2 separate regions of the Homo sapiens genome follow, and region 1 is linked to region 2. Evidence: fine-mapped expression QTL. A gene starts in region 2. The other region holds a variant in brackets. All regions are shown on one strand. Distances are from middle to middle.

The links. PIP is the estimated chance that this variant, and not a neighbour inherited with it, causes the effect. A credible set is the group of variants that fine-mapping cannot tell apart.
Region 1: its variant is the best candidate, but not a certain one, in a credible set for the expression of AAMDC in whole blood (INTERVAL, PIP 0.67).

The regions. Positions count from the first base shown.
Region 1 is chr11:77,850,600-77,855,831 of GRCh38, forward strand. All of the region lies in intron 2 of AAMDC (adipogenesis associated Mth938 domain containing), which reads left to right. It also overlaps a transcript of RSF1 not described here. Among named protein-coding and RNA genes, the nearest start is that of AAMDC, 32 kb to the left of the region's middle. The variant C/T (reference allele first, on the strand shown) is at 2,963.
Region 2 is chr11:77,818,663-77,823,662 of GRCh38, forward strand. AAMDC (adipogenesis associated Mth938 domain containing) reads left to right here and starts at 2,482. Exons shown (of 4, transcript NM_024684.4): 1 at 2,482-2,579. RSF1 (remodeling and spacing factor 1) reads right to left here and starts at 2,060. Exons shown (of 16, transcript NM_016578.4): 1 at 1,866-2,060. The coding sequence starts at 2,052. RefSeq lists enhancers at 441-1,414, 710-819, 1,415-2,387, 1,940-2,109, 2,120-2,259 and silencers at 1,450-1,539, 1,680-1,769, 2,360-2,519.

The sequences.
Region 1 (5,232 bases), 32 kb after region 2:
AAACTAAAGGAACTATGGAAATGTTTACCCCAACTTTTTATTTTGAAAAATGTTAAACCTACAGAATAGTTATGTGAATAATATAATACATTTCCATATATCCTTTACCTAAATCCTCAAGTTGTTAACATTTTACCATGTTTGTTTCTTTTCTCACTCTAAACACACACACACATACACACACATACACACACACACACACACACATACACTCACACTTTGTCCCCCTGTCATTTGACAATAAATCACAGATACGACATTTCAGTATTTCTCTCCTAAGGACATGAATATTCTCCTCTATAACTACAATTCTATTGTCAAAAACAAGGATATTATCATTGATACAATAATATCTTTTTTTTTTTTTTTTTTTTGAGATGGAGTCTCGCTCTGTGGCCCAGGCTGGAGTGCAGTGGCACGATCTCGGCTCACTGTAACCTCCACCTCCTGGGGTCAAGCAATTATCTGCCTCATCCTCCTGAGTAGCAGGGATTATAGGCACATGCCACCACGCCCGGCTAATTTTTGTATTTTTAGTAGAGACAGGGTTTCACCATCTTGGCCAGGCTGGTCTTGAACTCCTGACCTCGTGATCCACCTGCCTCGGCCTCCCAAAGTGCTGGGATTACAGGCGTGAGCCACTGCGCCCGGCCGATACAATAATATCTAATATACAGTCTGTCTTCAGATTTCCCCAGTGTCCCAAGAATGTTCTCTATAACTTTTGTTGATTCTCAGAGAATTGTACAATTGACCAGGCTAGAGTTTCTTCTGCTCAAGACAGTTCTTCTTAAGGAAAGATTGATGAGCTGTTCCTAGCTGTTCCTTGTGTTTTTGTTTGCTTTTGCTTTTGTTTTCCTATTCACCTTCTAAAGCTGGTTGTTGTGGAAGGCTGATATAGTTGGATATTTGTCCCCACCCAAATCTTTTGTTGAAATGTAATCCCCAATGTTGGAGGTGGGGCTTGGTGGGAGGTAATTGGGTCATGTGGGCAGTTCCCTCATGAATAACTTAGTGCTGTCTTGGTGATAGTGAGTGAGTTGTCAAGAGATCTGGTTATTTAAAAGTGTGTGGTACCTCCCCCAACCTTGCTCCTGCTTTCATCATATGACATGCCTACTCCCACTTCACGTTCTGCCATGGGTAAAAGCTCCCTAAGGCCTCCTCAGAAGTCAAGCAGATGCTGGTATCATGCTTGTACAGCCTGCAGAACTGTGAAGCAATTAAACCTCTTTTGTTTATAAATTACCATCTCAGGTATTTCTTTATAGCAAAGTAAGAAAGGCCTCTGTTGAACTTCTTGAATTTGAATATTTTCAAACTGTGATCCAACAAATTATAAAAGAAATAGAATAAACAGTTGCATACCATCAATTCAGATTCACTAGTTGTTAACATTCTGCCACATTTGCTTTATCTAGTCCTCTGTGGCCCTCTTCTCTCCTTCTCATAATTATTTTTACTAAATAATTTGGAAGTAGTTGTGGGCAGCCATAGTGGCTCACATCTGTAATCCCAGCACTTTGGGAGGACGAGGGACGAGATGGGAGGATCACTTGTGCCCAGGAGGTCAAGGCTGCAGTGAGCTTCACTCCAGCCTGGCCAACAGAATGAGACACTGTCTCAAAAAAAAAAAAAAAAAGAAGAAGAAGAAGAAGTTCAAAGAAAAAGAAAGAAAAAGTCACTGAAATTAATGATCATTTTTAATGTTGTCAATTTGACATACGGAATTTGGTTTATTTGTTTCTGTTGGCATACAATTTTAGATGCCTCCCATTTCCTGTCTGTCTTGATTTTAACTTTCTGAATCATGTAAAATATTTACATGATTCAGAATTCAAACTTCAAACTATGACAGTCACTTGCTGTTCACTATCACCAGAACAGCAAGAGAGATATCCACATCCATGATCCAGTCACCTCCCATCAGGTCCCTCCTCCAACACTGGGGATTACAATTCAACATGAGATTTGCGCAGGGACACAAATCCAAACCATATCATAGATACACTTAGAAAGTCTTATTCACCTCCCTATCTCTTCCATCACATTCCCACCTCACTCCATGTAGGTAATTATTTTGTATTAGTTTCCGGTTTATCCTTTTTTGTATTTTTCTGGAAAAAATAAGCAAATACAAAAATACATATATAAATAATTTTTTTTCTTTTTTTCCCATTTTCCATACGCAAAAGGTAGCATGCCTTACTTCTTTATATTCTGTTCACTTAATATATACAGAAAATCATGATATCAGTTCATAGAGATATGTCTTTTTCTTTTTTACCACTGTATAGTAACCAACTTTGTGAATGTAATATTGTTTATTCACTTTAGTCCTAAGGGATGGGTACTCGATTGCTTTCAATATTTTAGTACTATAAACAATACTACATTGAATAACCATGTACATTTTTTTTTGTATTGTTGAAAGTGTATATCCAGGGTAAATTTTTAGAACTGAGATTGTGCTTAAAGAGTAAATGTAAATGTAGATTTGTTAGATATTGCCAAATTCCCCTTTTTGGGGGTTGTACCGTATTTTAGTATTACTAACAATTTATGAAAAGGCCAATTTTAAAATGTAGAAATGTTTAAATTTGTTAGTAAAAGTGAACAGTATTTGTATTAGTCCATTCTTGCATTGCTATAAAGAACTACCTGAGACTGGTTAGTTTCTAAAGAAAAGAGGTTTCATTGGCTCAGGTTTCCATAGGCTGTACAGGAAGCATTGCTAGGGAGGCCTCAGGAAACTTACAATCATGGCAGAAGGCAAAGAGGAAGCTGGCATGTCTTACATGGCCAGAGCAGGAGGCAGGAGAGTGGGGAGGTGCTATATACTTTTAAACAACCAGAACTCATGAGAATTCACTCACTATCACGAGAACAGCAAGGGGGATATTGGCCCCATGATCTAGTGGCCTCACACCAGGCCCCTTCTCCAACACTGGGGATTATAATT[C/T]GATATGAGATTTGGTCAGGGACACAAATTCAAACCATATCATTCTGCATCTGGCCCCTCCCAAATCTCATGTCCTTCTCACATTTCAAATTACAGCCATGCCAGGCAGTGGCTCACCCCTGTAATCCCAGCACTTTGGGAGGCCAAAGTGGATGGATTGCTTCAGGTGAGGAGTTCAAGACCAGCCTGGCCAACATGATGAAACCCTGTCTCTACTAAAAATATAAAAATTAGCTGGGCATGGTGGTGCACCCCTGTAATCCCAGCTACTTGGTAGGCTGAGGCAGGAGAATTGCTTGAACCCAGGAGGTGGAGGTGGCAGTGAGCTGAGATTGCACCACTGTACTCCAGCCTGAGTGACAGAGTGAGACTCCGTCTCAAAAAAATAAACAAATAAATACAACCATGCCTTCCCAACAGTCCTCCAAATTCTTTTTTTTTTTTTTTGAGACAGACTCTCGCTCCGTTGCCCAGGCTGGAGTGCAGTGGTGCCATCTTGGCTCACTGCAACCTCCACCTCCCAGGTTCACACCATTCTCCTGCCTCAGCCTCCTGAGTAGCTGGGACTACAGGCGCCCGCCACCACACCCAGCTAATTTTTTTTGTATTTGTAGTAGAGACGGGGTTTCATCGTGTTAGCCAGGATTGGCTCGATCTCCTGACCTCATGATCCACCCGTCTCAGCCTCCCAAAGTGCTGGGATTACAGGCGTGAGCCACCGTGCCCGGCTATCCTCCAAATTCTTAACACATTCCAGCATTAACTGAAAAGTCCACAGTCCAAAGTCTCATCTCATACAAGGCAAGTCTCTTCTGCCTATGAGCCTATAAGATCAAAAACAGTTAGTTACTTCCAAGATACAATGGGGTTATAGGCATTGGCTAAATACTTCCATTCCAAAAGTGAGAAATTATCCAAAACAAAGAAGCTACAGGCCCATGCAAGTCTGAAACCCAGCAGGGCAGTAATTAAAACTTAAAACTCCAAAATAATATCCTTTGGCTCCATGTCTCACATCCAGGTAACACTGATGCAAGGGGTGGGTTCCCAAGGCTTTGGGCAGCTCTGCCTCTGTGGCTCTGCAGGGTGCAACCCCTGTGGCTGCTTTCGTGGGCTGGCATTGAGTGCCTGCGGGTTTTCCAGGTGCATGGTGCAAGCCGTTGGTGGATCTACCATTCTCATGTCTGGAGGATGGTGGCCCTCTTCTCACACCTCCATTAACCACTGTCCCAGTGGGGACTCTGTGTAGGGGCTCCAACCCCACATTTGCCCTCCATACTGCTATTGTAGAGGTTTTCCATGAGGGCTACGCACCCCCAGCAGACTTCTGCCTGGACATCAGGCATTTCCATACATCCTCTAAAAACTAGGCAGAGGCTCCCAAGCCTCAATTGTCACACTCTGTGCACCCACTGGCTTAACACCTCATGGAAGCCACCAAGGCCTATGGCTTGCACCCTCTGAAGCATCAGCCTGAACTGTACCTTGGCCCCTTTTAACCATAGCTAGAGCTGGAGTGGCCGTGATGCAGGGTGCTATGACCTGAGGCTGCACAGAGCAGTGAGGCCTTGTACCTGTCCCACAAAACCATTATTTCCTCCTAGGCCTCCAGGCCTGTGATGGGAGGAGCTACTGTGAAGGTCTCTGAAATTCCTTCCAGGAATTTTCTCCATTATCTTGGTTATGAATATTTGGCTCCTCTTTACATATGCAAATTTCTACAGCTGGCTTGAATTCCTCTCCTGAAAAAGTTTTGTTTTTTTCTTTTTTTGTTTTGAGACAGAGTCTCACTCTGTTGCCCAGGCTGGAGTGCAGTGGCGCGATCTCGGCTCACTGCAACCTCCACCTCCCAGGTTCATGCCATTCTCCTGCCTCAGCCTCCCAAGTAGCTGGGACTACAGGTGCCTGCCACCACACCCAGGTAACTTTTTCTTTTTTTTTGTATTTTTAGTAGAGACGGGGTGTCACCGTGTTAGCCAGGATGGTCGCGATCTCCTAACCTCATGATCCACCCGTCTTGGCCTCCCAAAGTGCTGGGATTACAGGTGTGAGCCACCACGCCTGGCCTTTTTTTTCTTTTATGCCACATGACCAGGCTGCAAATTTTTCAAACCTTTATAATCTGCTTCCCTTTTAAATGTAAGTTCCAGTTTTATGTCTTTTTTTTTTTTTTTTTGCTCAAGAATATGAGCATAGGCTGCTAGAGGCAGCCAGACCATGTCTTGAGTGTTTTGCTGCTTAAAAATTTCTTCCACCAGCCAAGTGCAGTG
Region 2 (5,000 bases):
CAGCTACTCGGGAGGCTGGGGCAGGAGAATCGCTTGAACCTGGGAGGCGGAGGTAGCAGTGAGCCCAGATCCTGCCACTGCATTCCTGCCTGGGCAACAGAGTGAGACTCCGTCTCAAAAAACAAATAAAAATAAAAAATATAAAAAAGAATGTAAATACAATTTGATAATGAAATTACTACAATGGGAGCTTAATTTTTAAACAAATTCTGTGAGAAGCCTTTATATAATGTAATTAGTCACCCTCCTATTTTGTACTATTTTTTAAATTAGCCTTTTGTAAGCCAGTTTGTTACAGGTAGAGGGAATGTGGACAGGTAAGAACAGATTACTAGGCTTATATTATAACTGCTGTATTAATTTGAGTCTTCGGTAGCCATAACATCATACAGATTCTTTATAGGTAATATTCTGAAGAACTTCATACTTGGCGCTTCCTAGCAATGCAAATAAATTCAGTTAACAGAAACTTCTTCATTTACATAGAGAATAGAAGAGCGACCCTGCTTTCTTGGAAAGGAAACAGCTATCTGTCTTGTACAATAACCAATCCACTTTGGCCAGCTAATATGGACAAAAAAAGAGACCTATTTGGAAAACGTTTCTTCTCCAGCCAAGGGCTGTTTCCAGATAAAGGCAATGCTCAGAGTATAACAAAAAAGCCTTCTCTGAGGAAAGAAAAGTGCCAGAAAAGGAGAGGCAGGGATCGGGAATAAATGGGGGTGAGTATAAGCACTCAGTGTGAAGGCTGGAGGCAGCAGGCGCAGCGCTGAGATGCTCCAGCAAAAGAACCAGCAGCAGCAGCAGGAAGTTTCAATGGGGCCGGGCAGAGCATGCGCCCTGCACCCGCGCGGTGGCCTTATGTGGAAGGAGCACCACTTGCGAACACCAATAATAGACCAGCGGCACCAGAGAGAGAAACATGAGCAACAAGCACCTTCTTCAACTGTTTCCCCCTCCGTCAGAGCCCCTCCTCCAGCTTACATACTAACCACCCCACCCTACCGTGCAAATGGGAGGGAGACGACTTCTTCGCCTAAGCCCGGCTGCCAAGATGAAGGGGGAAGGGATTGGAAAAGTGGGGAGATGCTCGCCTATTATTTTGGGGGAGGTGGGGAGAGGAAGGAGAACTATGGAGGAGGAATTAACCCTCTCCTCTCCACAGTGGAGCTGAACCGACTTCGCCCCCCTACCGAGAATGGAGAAGAACCCCCTCCCGTGGGGGAGGAGCAGACCTCCCCACTTCAAGGAAGGAGTTTTAGGGGTTAAAGCAGCCCTCGAGGGGAAGGGAAAAGGGACAAATCTCTCAGGGGAGTTCCCAACAGAGGGAGGGAGAGTTGAGTGTCCGCTGGCCCCCGCCCACCCAGGTGAAGGGAGATAAGGAGGTGTCCGGAGCAGCCGAGCCCAGCCTTCCCCGAGATGGTCGGGAAGACTGGTGGGAGGAGGGGAGGGAGTAAGGGTGGGGAGGAGGAGAAAAGCGCAAAGCTGGCCGGAACCTGCGCTCCCCTTCCCCCGCCGCCAAGGGGGAGACGGGGTGGGGGGCCGCCCTCCGCCGCGGAGAAGCAGTCCCCGGGGCTGCCGACCGGCACAATGACCCCTCCCCGCCTCCAGCCCACACCTAGCCCGCAACGCCTCCACCTCAGCTCCCCGCCCGGCCGAGTGGCCCTAGGGGGCCTCCGCCCCGCCTCCCCACTGCCCAAGACCCCGGGGGCTGGGCGGAGAAGACCAGCCCGGCGGAGTTGCGTCCCAGGGGGAAGACAGAGCCGCGGAGGCCCGAGCCGCGAAGAACCGGGGCGCCTGTGAAGAGCGGAGAGTAGCAGAGCGCCAGGGCCGCTTCCCGCCGGGCGTTCGGGCCCCTCGCTTACCTTCTCCGTTGCCGACGTCCGGCGGCGGCGCCTGCAGCACCCGCTCCAGCTCAGGGAACGGCAACTCAGGCAGGTCTAGCAGCGGCCCGTAGCGCTCCAAGAAGGAGCAGACTACGGCGAAGTTGGGGCACGAACCCGGGCAGCCCGGAGGAGCCATCACCGCCGCCGCTGCCGCCGCCGTCGCCATTTTGAACTGGAGGATGGAGGAGGAGGCGATGGGGGGGCGGGGGAAGTTGTGGTGCCGAGGGATGGCAAGGCAACCTTACAGACGACAGGAGGCGCTCTCAAGTGGGCTCCTCTGCGGATCCCAGCGTCTCAGGGACGGCTCCGCGATCCCACAATACATCGGCGGCCCGGAGCAGTCGAGAACCGAGTCAGACGGGAGACAGAGCGGCCCTCGGCGCCTTTCACTTTCCGCCCTCTTTCCGCCCCCTTCTCTCCTCCCCTTCGGGCTTGCCACTGCCTCGTGTGACAGGGGGAATGAAAACAAGGGAAGCGGGGCGGGGAGGCGGGCTGGAAGCGGGAGGGGCGGGACTTCTCGAGAACAATGGCCAATGGACGCAGAGGGGGCGGGGCCTCGGGCGCTGTTCAACTGCAGGGCGTATTCCCGGAGGGCAGTTGGGGAGCGCAGATCCCGAAGCAGCGCTGGGAGCGTAAGTGCGGGCAGAGCACTGCGCCGTTTGGGAACGCAACTTTGAGGAGACAGTGCGGTGGGTGAGTTTGCGGGGGAATCCTGAAACTGGGCCACGAGATGGTGGAGAGGTTGAGGAGAATTAATAAACAGAAAAAGGGAATAGGGCGGGGGAAAGCACAGTTGTGGGAGAAGGTTGGGAAGGGGAAAGGTAGAGGTGTGCCCTTAATTAGGGGCTGGGCTGGGACCTCGGTAAGATGTCTCTGTGGAAGTTTGCCGACGGGGTATTGCTCTCTGCTGGGGTACAGGAATCGCAGCTTTGCTGGAAAAGCAGGATCTGAGGGAACGGAACTCTGGGGGAATCGTCGGAGTGAGGAGTTGGGGCCCTGCTGGGAGAAGAGGATCTGAGGAGACCAGGCTCTGCTAGGGGGCCATGGTGTGAGGGGAAGGGGCTCTGTTCAGGGACCAGAATCGGAGTGTGGGCTGGGACTCCATTGAGAGGCGGAACATGACAGGAGACGGTGGAGCAGCGAAAAGTTTGTTAGAAGACAGGGTTCCACTTCGGGGCGGGGCGGGGGCAGTGAACATTCCCACAAAGAACGCCAGAGAGAAACTACCAATAATGTAAAATAGAATGTGCAGCCTGAGAAGCAGCAGTACACGTTATGCTTAGAAGCCTGAGCTTTGGATTCAGCCAGGCCTGAGTCCTAGCGGGGCTACTTCATGACACTGTGGAGGTTTCTTTATTTCTTTGAACTCCTTAGAGTGGGGTGATAATAGTACCTACATCATACGGTATTACTAGATAAATCACAGTAAAGTGATTAGCACAGTGCCGTAGCACATAGTGAGTACTTTAAAAATATTAGTTATCAAAAAAGGAGTTCCTATAATTTAGACTGAATTCCGCTATATTTATTTAGTCTATAATTTATTACTTTGAGAATTTTCTGAGTGCATTTAAAACTCAATGTAGTACCTAATTCCTAAAAAGAATTTGGCCGGGCGCGGTGGCTCATGCCTGTAATCCCAACACTTTGGGAAACCGAGGTGGGTGCATCACCTGAGCTCTGCAGTTCCAGACCAGCCTGGGCAACATGGTGAAACCCCGTCTCTAGTAAAAATAACGAAAATTAGCCGGGAATCCTTGGGAGGCTGATGCAGGAGAACCCCTTGAACCGGGGAGGCGAAGGTTGCAGTGAGTCGAGGTCGCGCCACTGCACTCCAGCCTGAGCGACAGAGCAAGACTCCACCTCAAAAAAAAAAAAAAAAAAAAAGAATTTGAAGCAAGGTACAACACAAACCATGTAAAAAAGAGAAATCTGTAATTATAGAAAGATAAGAAATAGATGGGCAAATAATTATATGAGTAACAGGGAAAATGGTCACACAAACACCGAATTTTTTTCTTCATTTCCAGGTTTTAAAAAGGGGAAAAACCATAAGGGTGTGTATTATTCCCATTATCTAAAGAAAGAATACTCAATTTATCAAGAGAAAAATTCTATATTGTAAGAAGAATTTATTGCCTTGAATAGTGATTCATAGTCTTGAGTGGTATACAAACCGTTTTTAAAGGAAAAAAGTTCTTTTGAAACTTGGCAAATACTTTTGAAAATTTCACTGTAAGAAATACTGATGTAAGAAATCAAAGTCTAAAGAACACTGTAAATGTACTTAATGCCACTGAAGTATACACTTAAAGTGGTTAAAATGGCATATTTTATGTTACATGTATTTTACGACAATAAAAAAGCTTTTAAGAAATTAAAATCCGCCGGGCGCTGTGGCTCACGCCTGTAATCCCAGCACTTTGGGAGGTCGAGACGGGCGGGTCACGAGGTCAGGAGATCAAGACCATCCTGGCTAACGCGGTGAAACCCGTCTCTACTAAAAATACAAAAAATTAGCCGGGCGTGGTGGCGGCGGGCCCCTGTAGACAGCTACTCGGGAGGCTGAGGCAGGAGAATGGCATGGACCCGGGAGGCGGAGCTTGCAGTGAGCCAAGGTTGTGCCACTGCACTCCAGCCTGGGCGACAGAGCAAGACTCCGTCTCAAAAAAAAAAAAAAAAAAAAGAAATTAAAATCCTACTTCAGGAAAATATCTTTATGGTTATGAATTATCACTGCCAAAGAAGTTTTAATTTAATAAGTCGGAAAATATTGTTTTTAAGCAATTACTGAAATGAAACACAAAACTAAACTAAAACATTTTTATAGAATTCCCAAACGGGCAAGTGTATATCTCTTGACCCTGGGGACCTGAAGACTCCAGTTTAAAAATAATCTGGGCGAGGTGGGGTGGCTCATGCCTGTAATCCAAGCACTCTGGGAGGCCGAGCAGGAGGACCCCTTGAGCCAAGGAGTTCGAGACCAGCCTGGGCAAGGTAGTGAGACCTCATCTGTAATCCCATGTAGTTGCCACTGCACTCCAGCCTGGGCGACAGAACTACACCCTGTCTCAAAAAAAAAAAAAAAAAAAAAGAATAATTTGACCCAGAATA